2 separate regions of the Homo sapiens genome follow, and region 2 is linked to region 1. Evidence: fine-mapped expression QTL. A gene starts in region 1. The other region holds a variant in brackets. All regions are shown on one strand. Distances are between the middles of the regions. Region 1 holds the start of POGZ (pogo transposable element derived with ZNF domain). Region 2 overlaps POGZ (pogo transposable element derived with ZNF domain).

What was found. PIP is the estimated chance that this variant, and not a neighbour inherited with it, causes the effect.
Region 2: its variant is fine-mapped to the expression of POGZ in whole blood (INTERVAL, PIP 0.93).

The regions. Positions count from the first base shown.
Region 1 is chr1:151,456,012-151,464,717 of GRCh38, reverse strand. It overlaps POGZ (pogo transposable element derived with ZNF domain), which reads left to right and starts at 5,224. Exons shown (of 19, transcript NM_015100.4): 1 at 5,224-5,566. RefSeq lists an enhancer at 4,954-5,003 and silencers at 5,834-5,883, 6,074-6,123.
Region 2 is chr1:151,407,304-151,416,009 of GRCh38, reverse strand. POGZ (pogo transposable element derived with ZNF domain) reads left to right here. Exons shown (of 19, transcript NM_015100.4): 11 at 3,614-3,714; 12 at 4,239-4,385; 13 at 7,182-7,316; 14 at 7,429-7,601; 15 at 7,770-7,910. Among named protein-coding and RNA genes, the nearest start is that of PSMB4, 12 kb to the right of the region's middle. The variant C/T (reference allele first, on the strand shown) is at 3,753.

The DNA of each region.
Region 1 (8,706 bases):
ATTACAGAGAGTGGGATACCCATTTCTTTCTTTCTTTTTTTTTTTTTTTTTTGAGACGAAGTCTCACACTGTGGCCCGGGATGCTATGCAGTGGCGTGATCTCGGCTTGCTGCAGCCTTCGCTTCCCAGGTTCAAGCAATTCTCCTGTCTCAGCCTCCCAGGTAGCTGGGATTACAGGCATGCACTACCACACCCGGCTAATTTTTTGTATTTTTAGTAGAGACGGGGTTTCACTATTTTGGTCAGGCTGGTCTGAAACTCCTGACCTTGTGATCTGCCCACCTCCGCCTCCCAAAGTGTTGGGATTACAGGCGTGAGCCATCGTGTTCGGCTGTTACCCATTTCTTAAAGAAATCTGGCATTATCTCCCACGAAGCTTATTTCTGCCTGGACTAACCTCACCATCTGAGCCTCCCTACTCCCCGCCCAAACACATACCAGTCAACCTCACGCTGAACCTGAACAATAAGTGATTAGGTCTGCATTTTAGCAAAATGATGCCACCGAGGGCATCCATGACTCAATGCTTTTGAAGACATGCTGAAATCATTTGTCTCTCTTCTTTAACATTCTCCAAGCTACAGGTGGTTCCAATTTTCTTTTGTATGTTTTGTTGTTGTTGTTTGTTTGTTTGTTTTTTGATGGAGTTTCACTCTTCTTGCCCAGGCTGGAGTGCAATGGTGCAATCCTGGCTCGGTGCAATCCTGGCTCACTGCAGCCTCCACCTCCTGGGTTCAAGTGATTCTCCTGCTTCAGCCTCCCAAATAGCTGAGATTACAGGCGCGTTCCACCACGCCTGGCTAATTTTTTGTATTTTTAGTAGAGATGGGGTTTCACCATCTCTACTAAAGACCTTTGGCCAGGCTGGTCTTGAACTCCAGACCTCAGGTGATCTGCCTGCCTTGGCCTCCCAAAGTGCTGGGATTACAGGCATGAGCCACCGTGCCCAGCCCCAATTTTCAACTTGTGGCAGAAACCGTAAGTCAAGGAAGCAAGTAAGTATTTCCATAAACTGTAGAAAAGAAACACTCTCCAGCTATGTAACTGAAAAGCTCAGCTTGGGACATCCATTAACCTTTGACTTTCTTTCTTAGAAAAAGTTTCTAAGTTGGCTACTGAAGACTGGAATAATTTTTAGGAGTACCACTATTAGGATCAAATTTCTTCAACATATCAGACTGGATTGGCTTTCAGATTCCTCCCCAGTATGTTACAGAGGCACATACGAGTTGATTTCTAAGGATCTGATTCAGGTTATTTGTTCTACTACTTGGGTTTCCCATCATCATCAAGATGGTTCAAACCATTATCCAGATGGTCCAAAAGAGAGACCAAAGCTATCAGTTCTGTTACTTCACTCTGGAAACCTGTGTTTTAGCTGAAGAAGCAAAATGTTCCAACACTGTCCAAATTAATATGAGCATTCTCTCTTTAGCACAAGGAATACGTTTCTGGAAATAGCAGTGTTAACTGTATAGTCTCTTTTGAAGTGCTGCACCAGTGTTGTAATGTAAGGTGGCAGAGTTTCCTTGAAATCTTCTGAAGGTATAAAATGTCTTTGCTCATCATTTCCTTTTTTTTTTTTTTTCTTTGAGATGGAGTCTCACTCTGTCACCCAGGCTGGAGTGATGTGGTGTGATCTCGGCTCACTGCAACCTCCACCTCCCGGGTTCAAGCGATTCTCCTGCCTCAGCCTCCTGAGTAGCTAGGACTACAGGCATGTGCCACCACGCCTGGCTAATTTTTGTATTTTTAGTAGAGATGGGGTTTCACCATGTTGGCCAGGCTGGTCTCAAACTCCTGATCTTGTAATCCACCCACCTCGGCCTCCCAAAGTGCTGGGATTACAGGCATGAGCCACCACACCTGGCCAGGATACCTTTTACAACGTCAAAAGACACTCCATTCCCTAATTGCCTGTTGATCTTTACCCTCTGTTTCCTCACCCATTTCCTCAAAGGTGCCTCCAGATCCTGCAAAACTCCCACTTTTACATTTAGCATGATAGACTTTCTGTATTCTTGGTGGCAGGCATAGCACCATCACTCATTTTATTGGGCATTATGGGTCAAAACTGTCTCCCAGGGCACAAACTAAATGACAGAAAAATAGAGAGGAGTAAGTAACACACCACAGAACTCAATCACCTGAAGCAGCAGCTTCACAACTCCCATCCTGGTCCAAGCTACCATCAACTCTCACCTGGATTATTGCAATAGCCTTCTATCTGGTCTCCCTGCATCTGCCCTTGCCTCTATTAGTTATTCTTCACAAGCAGCCACAGTGATCCTTTAAAAACGTGAGTCAGGCCGTGTCACTACTTGCTTTATGATCCTCCAGCAGCTTCATTTTCACTACAGGTAAAACCTAAACTTTGCTTCACTTTCTTCAGGTCTTTGCCCAAATGTCACCTTAACAAGGACTTCTCCAATCACCCCACATAAAATAGCAAATTCTCCACCCCCATGTCTGCACCACACTCCTAATTCCCCTATCCTGCCCTTTACCCTTCATAGCACCTATCACCATTTCATATAATCCATATTTATTTACATAATGTATATCAGATTGCATTTTCCAAGATGGCCACAAGATTTCCCTTTCCGCACACTTTCTTACAATGTGACATTTCCACTATTCCCGTTGAGAGATGGGGATCTATGCTCTCCATCCTGTAACTGTAATGGAAGTAACACTATATGACCTCTGAGACTAGGTCACGATCTCTGTCTGGTCCTTTTGGGGCACTCAGTCTTGGAACTCAGCCACTATGATATGAGGAAGCCCAGGCTACATGGAGAAGCCACTTGTAAATGGTCTGCCAACAACCCCAGCTGCGGTCCAAGCCAACAGTCAACCTCAACTTCCAGACATGTAAGGAAGCTTTTGAGATTACTTCAGCCCTAGCCACTGCATACGAGACTCCCAAGTGAGAACTGTTTAGCTGAGCCTAATTACCTCCCAGAACCATGAGAGGTAATGAAATTGTTGTTTTAAGCCACTAAGTTCGGGGTCATTTGTTATTTAACAATAGACAATAGAACAATTTGTTTATGTGTATATTTTATGTCTCTTTCCTTCTAGAGTATAAATCCCACAGATTCAGGTATTTGTTGTTGTTGTTGCTGCTGTATTCCCAGCACCTAAAACAGTGCCTAGTACATGTGCTCAATAATTTTTTTTTTTTTTTTGAGACAGGATCTTGCTCTGTCCCTCCCAGGCTAGAGTGCAAGTAGTGTCATCATAGCTCACTGCAGTCTCAAACTCCTGGCCTCAAGTGATCCTCCCAAGTCTTCCAAGTATCTAGGAATACCACAACCAGCTAATGAAAAAAATTTTTTGGGGCCAGGCACGGTGGCTCACGCCTGTAATCCCAGCGCTTTGGGAGGCGGAGGCGGGCAGATCACGAGGTCAGGAGTTCGAGACCAGCCTGCTTGGTGAAACCCCGTCTCTACTAAAAACAGAAAAAATTAGCCAGGCATCGTGGCGCACGCCTGTAGTCCCAGCTACTCAGGAGGCTGAGGCAGGAGAATTGCACCCAGCAGGCGGAGGTTGCAGTGAGCCGAGATCGCGCCACTTCACTCCAGCCTGGGGGAGAGAGCGAGACTCTGTTTAAAAAAAAAAAATTTTTTTTTGTAGAGATGGGATGTTGCTAAGTTGCCCAGGCTGCCCTCAGACTGCTGTGATCCTCCTCCCTTGGCCTTCCAAAGTGTTGGGATTACAGGTGTTAGCCACCATGCCCAGCCCCCAATAAATATTCATTGAATGAATGAATGGATGCATGATCCATTTTCAATAAAGCATGCTAACAGTTACTGGTCAACGGTATATGGCATAGTCTGCGCTAGATCTCATTGGCTGGGAGAATAAATTGACAGGGCATGGGGAAATATGTTGGAATTTTTCAAAGGTTAATAACGTAATATACATAATGTAAATATAACATATATAATGAATTATACTAATTACACGACAGTATAAAATAGGATTTGAGTTTCATGTAGTCTTTTGGTGATTGATCCCATAATCCTAATATGGGCTTCTCCAGATCAGGTCTGGAAAGTCTTCAGAAGTATTTTCAGAAGGATTTAGTGATTCTTCTCATTCAAATAATGAAGTCCTTCCTAAGCATCCTACACTAGTGGAAATCACTCACATGGTTTTGGTATGAAATGGAATGAAACTGGGTGGTGGCAGTGTGTGTATGTGTATGCACATGTGCACACTCACACGGGCAGGTGCATACAATTTGGAATGCCTACTTCCACTGCCTATTTTCAGTCTGGTGGTTTGAATGGAGTGTGTATATAAAGAGCACAAATAAACATAGTTCTGGATTTCCCCTTTCTGCACCAAGTACCTTGATTTCACATTTGGTTTGAAGCAAATATTTGTGTATTGCTTAAATAGCAAACATTTTCAAATATTCAAGGAAAATATTACATTTTTATAATCTCAGAAGGCAATAAAGGACAAAATTTCTTAGCTACCTGAAAAGAGGTAGTTTTTGTCTGGGGAAGAATAAACAGGTGGATGGTCGTTTGAGTGGACTAACCAATTTCTTTGAGCCAACCCATCTCAGCCTTGATTGGAGCAAAAAGCATAAGGATGTGGAGTGTGTGTGGTTTCTTGGAACTGGGGATCTCTGCTGAATCTACTCACAATGGGAGCAAAGCAGTTTCCATCACAATAATCGCTTTAACAATCGTGTGCCACTTCTTTCCAGGATCCAGAAGGGCTTGAGGATCAAAATGGCTTTTAAAAGTTCTTCACTTAAACAAGGCCGCAGCCACAAGGTTACTTGGCCGAGTGTCTCTTGAGAAAGAGTGAGTGCCATTTTGTTCTTTGTTCCAATGACAGTTGTTGGTGCCACTGGGCCTCACCACCTGGCCTGTGTCATGAAGTCTCCCTCTTGACTGGGTCTAAGCCTTGAGTGGAAAGTGGGGGAGCCTCCCAACACTTCCTTGGAAACTCTTGGCAAGTAAATTGGGGAATATTTTCTTTGGAAGTCTCATTTTTCTCACCAAAATTTAGATATAGCTTCTGAAGCTAATTATTCTTTTTTCATTACAAAAAATGTTTTCCTTTATTTATTTATTTGCAGGCCCAGCCAAACTTGACTAGAAAAGAAGCCCGGGCAGGGGTTTGGATGAGCCCATGACGTGCAGCGCGCTCCGACCAATTGGGAGGCCGTGAAAAAGGGGAGGGCGGAAGTGACGAGCCGTATCCCTCCGCGGGGCGAGAGGGTCGGTGGGGGGAGTCGGCGTCTCTCTCCCCCGCGCCAGCTCCCGTACACGGAGCCGCATTCCTTGGCCCCCCCACCCCCCTCCCTCGGGGCCCCCCCGCCCCCCTCGGGAAAAAAATCCACCCCGAATCACTCGAACCCGAGGGAGGCTTCCTTTCACCCTTGGGGAGACGAGCTTTCAACGGTTACCTCTTCTTCGTCTCCCCCCAAGCCCCCGTCCCCTCCCCCTGCTCCCACCCCCTTCTGGCGCCGGGTGTAAGGTCCCTTTAAGGCGACGGCGCCTTCCTCGGGTCAGACTACCGGCGGCGACGACCACAGGAGGTGAGTGAGCGAGCGAGCCTTCTCTCTCCCCACCCCCTGCTCCCGGGGGTTCCGTTATCTTTTCGCTCGGCGAGGCGTTCAGAGGCGAGACAATGAGAGGGGGATGGGGCCGGTACGCGCGGGGGTGGGGGCGGGGGGCCGGCGGTGCGCGCCCCCGCCCACCGCGAGTGGCGGCGCGGCCCGCGGCAGGGGCGGCCGCGGGGTGCGGCGCGCGAGCGCGAGTGTGTGTGCGTGCGCCCCGGGCCGCGGGAGCCGCGCGAAGGGCCGGCGGCGGAGGTCCCTGCCTGCCGGCTGGCCGGCCGCCCCCGCCCCCCGGCGCCCGCCGCGGCGCGCGCGCGCGCACTCGCGCCCCACGGCCCCGCACACAGCCCGACGTCCACACGCACGCTCGGCGCGAGGCGTCTCGGAGGAGTGGGCGGCGCGGGCGCGGGCGGTGGCCCGCTGGGGAAGGGGCGGGGGCGGGGGCGCGGGCGGTGGCGAGACGGCGGGGCGCGGCGGGAGGGGCCGGCGAGGGGGCGAGGCCGTGCGGCGGAGGGGCGGGCGGCGGCGGAGCGGCCCCTGGGGGTGGGGGTGCGCGGCCCTCCCCGCCCCATTCCCGCTCCGAGAAGGAGTGGGGCGCTCGTTTTGAGCGGGAGGAGGAAAATGAGTGATTGCTGAGCCGATCCCTTGTGTTATGTAATCTCTGCTTGGTCTAATAGTACATCCTAAGCCTTAGTGCACTGCAGCTAGTTTACGAAGTCTCCTCCCTCGGTCCCCAAATTTCTTTTGGGATGGCGCCGTGATTTATAAAATGGAATGAGGCGGGGAATCTTTATTTTCTGGTGATTATGTCCTGCCGCGGTGGGCGCCATGTTTATCCCGGGGACTATTTTATTTAGATTCTTGGCACCTTTTGCAAAGGAGTACTGTCATTGATCTATTTGTTTTCCGTCTTTCTGCGTGTTGTTCTTATTTCCTTCCTCTCCAGATGTGGGATTCTCTCAAACTGCTAGTAGCACTTGTCTTAGACATTCTTAGTTCAGAAAAAGGTAGTGCTGATGAGTCCTTAGAGTCATTTAGTGGCCAGTCTCATTTTCGAAATGGAAACTAAGATGCAGTTGGACTATCTCACAGCAGCCGCCGTCTTGATGCAAGCGGTGTAGCCCGTCCTTCCAAGCCCGTAGACACCTCTTACCGCCGCTCAAAACTCCACAGAAATGGGGTTTTACTTTTTTTTTTTTTTTTGAGACGAAGTTTCACTCTTGTCGCCCAGGCTGGTGTGCAGTGGCACGATCTCTGCTCACTGCAACCTCCGCCTGCCGGGTTCCAGTGATTCTCCTGCCTCAGCCTTCCTAGTAGCTGGGATTACAGGCATGTGCTACCACGCCCGGCTAATTTTTGTATTTTTAGTAGGGACGAGGTTTCACCATGTTGGCCAGGCTGGTCTTGAACGCCTGACCTCAGGTGATCCGCCCGCCTTGGCCTCCCAAAGTGCTGGGATTACAGGCGTCAGCCACCGCGCCCGGCCGGGTTTTACTTCTGTAGGCATTTACCCAACTAGAGGAAAGGGAAACGGAGGGGGCAGGGAGGGCTGCTCGTTGGCAAACGATTAATTTTGAGACACTATTGCTCAGGGTCTGAGAGCTTGAACTCTGAATTCGAACTGTTAGCACAATCGTTCTCAACTTCGGGGTGCATAAAAAGTAACTTGAAGGTGGTTAAACGTACAATTTGGGGGGCCTCATCCCCCAAATTTATTTGAATGGAGCAGAGGGGGGTTGTCATCTTTACATTTTCAAATGAGCAGTCCTGGGGCTGAGACTGATTAATGTAACCACTACATTGAGAATTACTGGTCTAACATAAAAGTGTTCAAGATGTTGAAACAAGTGACACCTTGTGCCGTTGATTTCCTTCCCTTTTCCAGAGCTGTGTTGGTGGTGTATCTCAAACTAAAGGAGGTAACAGAATGGACTCTTGGGACGAACCTGATTTAGTTAGAGTTTCCACTCCCATCTTGAACTAGTGGTATAATGTAGGAAAGCAGTTCTCAAAGTGTGGACAGATGACCCATGGGGATCTCCTCTTACCCTTTCAGGGTAGCCTCAAGGTCATAACTATTTTCAAAATAATAGTAAGATGCTATTTATTGTTTTCACTGATACACTGATGGTTCAAAAGCAAGGCTGGGTAAAACTACTGGCGGTACCTTAGCACAAAGCAAGTCAGGGGCACCAAACTACTTGAGAATGCCCTTGAAGCAGTAAAATTTATTATTCTATTTTTATTTTTTTGAGGCGGAGTTTTGCTCTGTCGCCCAGGGTGGAGTGCAGTGGCACTATCTCGGCTCACTGCAATCTCTTCCTCCCTGGTTGTATTTTTAGTAGAGACAGTGTTTCGCCATGTTGGCCAGGCTGGTCTCGAACTCCGGACCTCAGGCGATCCACCTGCCTCGGCGTCCCAAAGTGCTGGGATTACAGGCATGAGCCACCGTGCCCGGCCTATTATTATTAAGTCTTAGCTTTTGACTACATGTCTTTTTAATTTTTAAGAATTTGTGATTAAATAAACATGGATAAAGCATTTATGCTGCCTAGGGAGGTGTGATTGTTGTCATGAAGGAAAAGCATTTGTGAGATTGGGTTGTGAATGAATGGCTTATTTCATGGAGTAGCATTTTTACTTGAAAGAACGACTAGCAGACTATGGTTTTTCACACTTAGTATTTGGCAGATATTTCTTGAAAATGAAGTGAGCTTGTCACTTTTAGGAAAACAACTGACAGTATTTATTACCAGTGATAAAATTTGGGTGAAAATTAGAATTTTTAAAAAGTTGACAGCTGGAGTTTGACAGCTTCCTAGTACTTAAAAGACTTTCCTTATGATATCAGTGGTTAAGGACTGCAATATTTTAAAATGTTGTTTAATGAAATATGTTATTTGGAAGATGGGCATAACTCAGTAAATCTAGGCTTTGCAAATGACCAATGCATGATGTTGCAAAATCAAGCAAAGGCAAAAGATCCTTTGAAAATTCCAGACATAGCAATGGATTTTAACAGTAAAAAAGTGGATTGATGTGGTTTCAGATTCCAAAATGTTAACTGTCCTTTAAGAAACTACTATTTGGCCTAGCGTGGTGGCTCACTCCTGTAATCC
Region 2 (8,706 bases), 49 kb after region 1:
ACTCCTGACTTCAGATGATCCGCCTGCCTCTGCCTCCCAAAGCTCTGAGATTACAGGCGTGAGCCAGTGCACCCGGCCCTGATTCATAGTCTTTTAATATTTATGTCTAATACAGAAATCTTAACCTGCTTGGTGGTGAGGTGTCCTGTGAGCCCCTTGAAATTACATATAAACTTTGCCTGTGTGTGTGCATTTTTCAAGGGAGAGGTTGCATAGCTTTTGTTAGTGTGAGATTTGGGACTAAAAAATGGTTAAGACTGTTAGTTATTATTCCTGTTTTCCATAGTGGCTATCTTAAGGTACATTTCTTCAAATATTCTTTTTTTTTTTTTTTTTTTTGAGACGGAGTCTCGCTCTTTTGCCCAGGCTGGAGTGCAGTGGTGCGATCTCGGCTCACTGCAAGCTCTGTCTCCTGGGTTCACGCCATTCTTCTGCCTCAGCCTCCCGAGTAGCTGGGACTACAGGCACCCACCACCACGCCCGGCTAATTTTTTTGCATTTTTAGTAGAGACGGGGTTTCATCGTGTTAGCCAGGATAGAATGGTCTCGATCTCCTGAACTCGTGATCCACCGGCCTCGGCCTCCCAAAGTGCTGGGATTACAGGCGTGAGCCACCACACCCGGCCCATTTCTTCAAATATTATAACATTTTTCTTCCTGGCATTGTTACCTCCACTTCCTGAGCATCTCATTAAAGGTAACAGATGTAGGTTATTCTAATCTTTCAAAAAATCTTGTGTTAGTGGAAAGGAGAAAGTTTGAGGAAGAAATAGGATTGAGAGAAGGATGCTTTAAGGAGCTTAACCATGTTTAGGAGTCGGAGCCTGTCGGGGTTGGGGAAGATTGAAGACAGGGAAAACAAATTGACAAAATCTTGGAATACATGGCATGATGAGGTTGGATGAGCCTTAGGAAGGTACAAGAGATCTATCCTTCCATAATTTGGAAAACAAGCAGCAGAAGTTACAGTTGTTCATGCCTATTTCCTCAAAGTAGGAGATTGTGTTAGGTGTTAAGGAGGGTGATGGTGCTCAGAGGGACAGTTAGGACAGCCACCATGGAGAATCAATTCATTTTCCCTCTTGAATCTTTTTCTGTATTAGCTCCTTCCCCTGTAGAACTGATGTGTCAAAGGTTACCAGAGATCTCTTAAATCCCCTTATATTTGAGTTCCTACCTCACTAGTTTTCTTGAGATAACACAATGTAAATCTTTTTTTTCTTTTTTTTGAGGGAGTTTCGCTCTTGTTGCCCAGGCTGGAGTGTAGTGGCGCCATCTTGGCTCACCGCAGCCTCTGCCTCCCAGCTTCAAGCGATTCTCTTGCCTCAGCCTCCCAAGTAGCTGGGACTACAGACATGCATTACTGTGCCCGGCTGATTTTGTATTTTTAGTAGAGACAGGGTTTCTCCATGTTGGTCAGGCTTGTCTTGAACTCCCAACCTCAGGTGATCCGCCTGCCTTGGCCTCCCAAAGTGTTGGGATTACAGGCATGAGCCACCGTGCCCAGCCAACACATGTAAATCTTAACCTGATGCTTGTACATTAGAAATTGCTTAATAAGTGTTTTTATTATTGATGTTGCATGACAGCTGTGAAAATAGAGCTGATAAATAGGTTATAGGAGAAAGAGTGAATGAGATTGCCCAGGGAAAACATAGACTAAGAAAGGCCTGGACAAAATATTGCTTAAAGGTGTTCTAGAAGAGAAAAATGAGAGAGGTAAACAAATCGGGGGGTGAGTGGAAAAGAGATAATATCGTTATGTTGCTAGTTAACTGTTTCCCAAACATGTGGTTAACTTTCATACCTACTTGCCTTTCCTCCTGCTTTTCTCTTGGTCCTCTCTCTGGCTGGCTGAGCCCCATTCTTTGACAATTCAGCTTTTATATGTTGTTATAGCTTTTCCTCATTCCTTTATGCAGAATTTCTTATTTATCCATGTCCTCATAGCACCTAATGTACCTGTAGACAGTGTTTCTAAATGGAGTTGCAGACCTCTTTGAGAATAAATATGAAATGTTTGAATCCTCTTCCTAGAAAAATCTACATTTTACTCTTTTGCAAATAATTTCAGAGAAAGCCTGGATTCCTAGAGGCCTGTTCCATAGACCCCAGATTAAGAACCCCTGGCTTTTGTTTGTTTGTTTTACTTTAAAAAATTACTTGGCTAGGCACAGTGGCTCATACCTGTAATTCTGGTACTTTGGGAGGCTGAGATGGGAGGATTGCTTGAGCTTGGGAGGTCAGGGTTGCAGTGAGCCATGATTGAGCCACTGCGCTCTAGCGTGCGAGACAGAACGAGACTCTGTCTCAAAACAAAAATCCAGGGTTCTCGGTAGTTAAAAAAAGAAAAAAGAATTATTTCAACTTTATTCATATTTCTTTGGCTGGGGTGTAGGGGGCTGGGGGCGGGGGGAGGTTAGACATTGTCCAGTAAATGCCCAAGGCTTTAAGCTTCCAGTTTTCATATTTGCAAAAACTTGAAACTAATTCCATTAAAGTGACAAAAATGTAAATAATCTCTCTCTTTTTGCCATACTGTATAATTAAAAATATGTAGCAGTTAAAAGTCTTACCAAAATTGGCCGGTGCACTGGCTCACACCTGTAATTCTAGCACTTTGGGAGACTGAAGTGGATTGACAAAAGGATTGCTTGAGGCCAGGAGTTTCCGACCAGCCTGGGCAACATGGCGAGACCCTGTCCCTACAAAAAAAAATTTTTTTTAATTACTTGGGCATGGTGGTGCACCACTGTAGTCCTAGCTACTTGGGAGGCTGAAACAGGAGGCTCGCTTGAGCTCAAAGGATAGTCCTAGCTACTCAGGAGGCTGCGGTGAGCTATGATCATGCTCCAGCCTGAGCAACAGTGAGATTCTGTCTCTTAAAAAAAAAAAAAAAAAAAAAAGCCCAGGCACGGTGGCTCACACCTATAATCCCAGCACTTTGGGAGGCTGGGACAGGTAGATCACCTGAGGTCAGGAGTTCGAGACCAACCTGGCCAACATGAAATTACCAAAAATTGTCTCAGAAGTTTGACAAAATTGTTCATTTGTGTCATAAAATTTTGTCAAAATTTTTTCTCATAAGCTTGACAAAATGGACAATTTCAAAGAGAGTAGGAGGTATTGGAGGCCAGCTGATTAGCAGTGGGAAATCATATGGGCTAGTACCAAGTTTTTGCCTTATTATAAGTATAGAGAAGTGACAGTTCCTACATGCAGTTTGAAATAATGGTGACAGAATGCAGGGTTTGGAATCCGAGATAGTGCCTAAATTTTGAGCTCAGGAAGAAATGGGGAAAGGAAAAAGGGAAACAGTGGTAAGACAGGAGGATGCTGAATTAGGTTAGAGTTGACGATAGAATAACCAATTTAAAATGTCTTATAGATAAAATCTAGAATGAAGCTTTGGTAAGAAGTCTGAGCTACGTACATAAGATTATCAGCAACATATATGTTAAGGTGGAGCCATTTAAAGAAAGAACAGAAGGGACCTATGATTTACTGATTGTTGAAAATCAAAATAAAGGAGGCAGAGAAAATAAAGATTGTGAGTCAGCAGGACTTTTGTCTTATTTTCAAGTGGATTTATTGATTACTTTTCTTCTTACAGCCAAGTGCAAGATCTGTGAATGGGCGTTTGAAAGTGAGCCACTATTTCTCCAGCATATGAAGGATACTCATAAGCCTGGAGAGATGCCTTATGTTTGCCAGGTATTGCCTTTTTCTCCAGGGAGTTTTAGCAGTTTTGC[C/T]CTCAGGAAGAATACAAAGAATTTACTAATGAATATTGTTGACCACCTACTGCATACACTCAGTTTAGGAACTCTGAGTAGGTACAGAAGAAATAGTAAACACAGTTTATCTTCAGGGTTTCCATGCAGGAGAAAAACATAAAAGAACATGTCCACAAGTAGACTAGCCGGGAACATGTGCATATTCTAAGGGAGTGTCTGTCTCCTGAACGTGCCCTTTGGAAATTGACAGAAAAGGCTTTATTTTTCTTAGTTAGAGAACATGGATTATTCTTAGACTTTCTGTCCCTTCCTATTTTTAAAGTAATAGCTAAACCTATCACAAACATAGCCCAGCATTACAAAGTCAGGAAAATAATTTGATTTCTATGCATTTGAGAAAACTTTTTTTTTTTAATTTAAAAATTTTTGTTGCTACCTTTTTTTTTAAGGCCTCTCAGTTGTTCACTTCATTCTTAGCCTTATTTTCCCTCCTATGTGACTCAGGTGTGTCAATATCGCTCCTCACTCTACTCTGAGGTAGATGTCCATTTTCGGATGATCCATGAGGATACCCGGCATCTGCTCTGCCCTTATTGCCTGAAGGTCTTCAAAAATGGCAATGCATTCCAACAGCATTACATGAGGCACCAGGTACTAGGCACCAAGCAATTCCCATATTCTCTTGTTTTTTTTTTTTTTAAACATGGATGCTGGGGCCAGGGCTGAGCTAGGCAAATAATTTGGGCAGAGATTATAATATGCATATGTTTGCAGAAATTTATTGAATTCACTTAATGTGCCATGTACTAGTCTAGATGCTAGAGATTTAGTAGTAAACAAGGCAAACAATACAATAAAACATGAAGAGTACTGTGTTGGGGAAATTATAGGATATAGAAAATCACATAGCTATTCTGGGTGCCTAGTAAGGCTTCCAGAAAGAAGTGTTGTTCAATACCTGAGGGATGAATAAGAATGAGCCAGATGAAATAAGACGAAGAACAGTGTGCCCAAGGCACAAAGCAAAATTGTGGAGGTTCAAGAAATTGAGAGAGATTCAGTGTAGGGTGTAAGAGACAGAGGGGTTGGAAGTTAGGCAGGGACAGATCATGGAGGATCTTTTAAGCCATGAAAAGAATTCACTGGGAAGCCACTAAAGGGGTTTTAAGCCCTGGAGTGATGTGTTCAGCTTTAGTTAAGGCTTTATACTGCCTGCACTGCAGAGAATGGATTAAAGGAGATTGAGACTACAGTTAGGGAAACTAGCTAGAAGGCCTTTTTCAGTAGTTTAGGTGAGAGATGATAGTGGCTATTGGCTTTTGAAATAAAAAGAGGGTAGAGTTGAGAGATATTCAGAAGATTTGTGATATTTATGATGTAGAGATGGATTAGGTGAAGGTAGCAATGCAGTAGTTAAGAATAGTGCCTAAGATTCTGTCTTGGGCAGTTGGGTGAATGAGGGAACTATTTGCTGAAATAGAAACAATAGAGAAAGTATATTTGTGAGGGGGGAGATCATGAGCTTGGATATTGTAAGTTAGCAGTATCTGTGGATGTCAAGTGTAGCTGTTGGATAATAGATCTCAAGCCTGTGAGAGAACTCTGGGTTGTAGAAAAGATTTAGGAATCAGCGTTATATAAATCCTATAGATTTTAAACTTAAATACCATGGGCCCCCCAACCCTGTTGAGAATAAGAGAAGGCTTAGGATATTTGAAGTCCCTTATCTATAAAGCAACCACCATAGTACTAGGAGGAAAACCAGAAGAGTCTTAACCTTAAGGAAACTGGGGAGAAGAAAGTGTTTTAAAGAAAAGGGTGTGATCAAAATGTCATATGTTACAGGAAGGTGTCAAGCAACATAGAGACTTAGAAACAGGCCTTTAATTTAGCAACATTGATGAGAGCCATTTTGTTGGTTGGTAGGGTGGAAGTCACATTTCAGCAGAACAAATGAATGAGAGGTAAGGAAATGAAGACGATGTATTTAAAGAAGTTTATTTATAAAAAGGGAGGACCCAGGGTAGGTAAATCCAGAGGAAGAAGTGGCAAAGAAGAGTTTTTTATTGCTTTTATTTTCCTTATAAGATGAAAAGCTATGACTTCGTTTTAAAATACTACAAGAAGAGAGCCACTAGAGGAGAGTGAAAGGTATATAGTATATAAGAGAGGATTCAAAATGGAGAATAAGATGAGTGCATGTGTGCTTAATAGTCACATACATATGCACACAAACATATGTACCCTATTACACTCATAGTCTCCTTTGCACAGTAGTGACTGCTGATTGTCTACCACAACTGTATTTCCAAATAGGGGCATGGAAATTGTCTCTTAGCCTAAGCTTACAGAGCTTTGTTATCCTACTAAAGAAAATCATAGACATGGGTTCTATTTTTGAAGGACTTCAATACTAGGCAGACTGAATCCTCAAAGTGGTCTCACCAGGAGACATATCTGTATATACTGATGTGTTAAGTGAGAAAACAGCAAGGTATAGACAAGTGCTATCATTTGTGTTAAAAGGAGAAAAAGAAGAGGGCTGAGGTGGGAGGATCACTTGAGCCCAGGAGGTGGAGTCCAGCCTGGGCAACATGGTGAGACAACATCTCTACAAAAAGGAAAGGGAAAAAAGTAAGGGCCAGGCACAGTGATGCACGCCTGTAATCCCAACACTTTGGGAGGCCAAGGCAGGTAGATCACTTGAACCCAGGAGTTGAAGACCAGCCTGGGCAACATGGTGACACCCCGTCTCTACAAAAAAATACAAAAAGTAGCCGGGCGTGGTGGCACGTGCCTGTAGTCCCAGCTACTTGGGACGTGCAGTGAGCTATGAACATGCCACTGCACTCCAGCCTGGGCTACAGAGAGAGACCCTGTCTCAAAAAAAGGGGGCGAGGCAGGTAATGATTGGATATGAATGTATTTGTGATACAGTTATATGTGTAGACTGCCCACGAAAGCATACTCAGGAAACTGGTAATAAGTTGTTTGTATGGAAGGGGACTGAGTGTTGGAGTTGAAAGCAAAGTTGGAAGAGTATAGAAAAAAAAGTATGACTTTAGTTTACTATGTACATTGTCCTTTTTTAAAAAAAGAAGAATGAAGAATGTCCAGAAGAATGTCCAGTTGTCAGCAGTGTAAAGATATAATACAAATAAAGGTTACATCACTCATTCAAATTGTTAAAACAAGTCAGGAAAGGATGATTTGAGAACTTAGTCATCCTGGACTAGAATCCATCTTTCTTTGATATCATGGGAGGTGATGATTCTCAATGGTAGGTTTTGTGGTCATGTTGCATATTTCTTTCTTACTCTCTTAAATTATCAACAGAAAGGTGGGAAGAATGATATGGTTGACATTGATCTGCTTTCTCCTCAAAAAAGAAAATTTATTAGGAACCTTTAAGGGATTTTGTCTCTTTTTTTCCCTCCCCCACTTCAGAAGAGAAATGTTTATCACTGCAACAAATGCCGGCTGCAGTTTCTCTTTGCCAAGGACAAAATTGAACACAAGCTTCAACACCATAAAACCTTCCGTAAACCCAAGCAGCTGGAGGGCTTGAAACCAGGCACCAAGGTAAAGAGTTTGCCAGTGTCTTTTATAGGCCCAGGGAGGGAGGAATAGAGATTTTCAGTATTCTGAAATTTAGTGTGGGTGATGTCTCATTGTTACTTCCCTTGGTTCTCAGGTGACAATCCGGGCTTCCCGAGGGCAGCCACGAACTGTTCCTGTATCCTCTAATGATACACCTCCCAGCGCCTTGCAGGAGGCAGCACCGCTGACCTCCTCAATGGACCCTCTGCCTGTCTTCCTTTATCCCCCTGTCCAGCGCAGCATCCAGAAGAGAGCTGTTAGGAAAATGTCAGCGCCTTCTTCTAAGTGCTGGGCGGGTGGGGACTGGGTGGCCAGGATTATTCCTGATACACAGTGCAATCTGGTAGCTTTTTAGCAGGGTTTGTTGTCTGAAAATCCTACATTTTGGGGACCCATGAGGCAGTAATGAGAATTCTTTTTTTTTTTCCCCCACAGGAGTGTCATGGGCCGGCAGACATGCCTGGAGTGCAGCTTCGAGATCCCAGACTTCCCTAATCATTTCCCTACTTACGTACACTGCTCTCTGTGTCGCTATAGCACCTGCTGTTCTCGAGCTTATGCCAACCACATGATCAAGTAAGTTGGTTTTTAACCAGTGTTTTAGCTTGAGAGTTCAGATTCTTTTTTTCTTCTTCTTCTTCTTCTTTTTTTTTTTTTTTTTTTGAAGACAGGGTCTCACTCTGTCCCCTAGGCTGGAGTGCAATAGCATGATCTTGGCTCACTGCAACCTCTGCCTCCTGGGTTCAAGTGATTCTCCTGTCTCAGCCTCCCAAGTAGCTGGGATTATAGGTGTGCACCACCATGCCTGGCTGATTTTTTTGTATTTTTAGTAGAGACGGGGTTTCACCTTGTTGGCCAGGCTGGTCTCAAACTCCTGAGCTCAGGTGATCCACCTGCCTCGGCCTCCCTAAAGTGCTGGGATTACAGACATGAGCCACTGCGCCCGGCCCCAGCCAGATTCTTGAGCACTCATTTCATTTTCTCCCCTGCTTCTAATATGTTTCCTCCTTCAACTCTTAGAGCTATTTGTTCTTCTCTCCTAGCAGAGTGAGAGGCTCTGTTTTTTCGGTTTTGATGGTCTGTGCTCTAATTTCATAGGGCCTTGCTATTCAAGTACCAGTAGTATTAGGTGGGAGCTTGTTAGAAATGCTGACTCTCAGCCCCGCCCTAGGCCTACTGAACCAGAATGTGAATTTTAATAGATCCTCAGTGACTTGTATGCATATTAAAGTTTAAGAAGCATGGTGACAGGAAAACTGGCTTAGGTTGAGATTAGGGTGCACTGAAGAAGTGTCTCTTTTGTTGGGGGCATTGTCACTGGCTGGTGATCTCTAGCTTAGCCAGCAGAACTCCGTAACTCATACCACTTCTT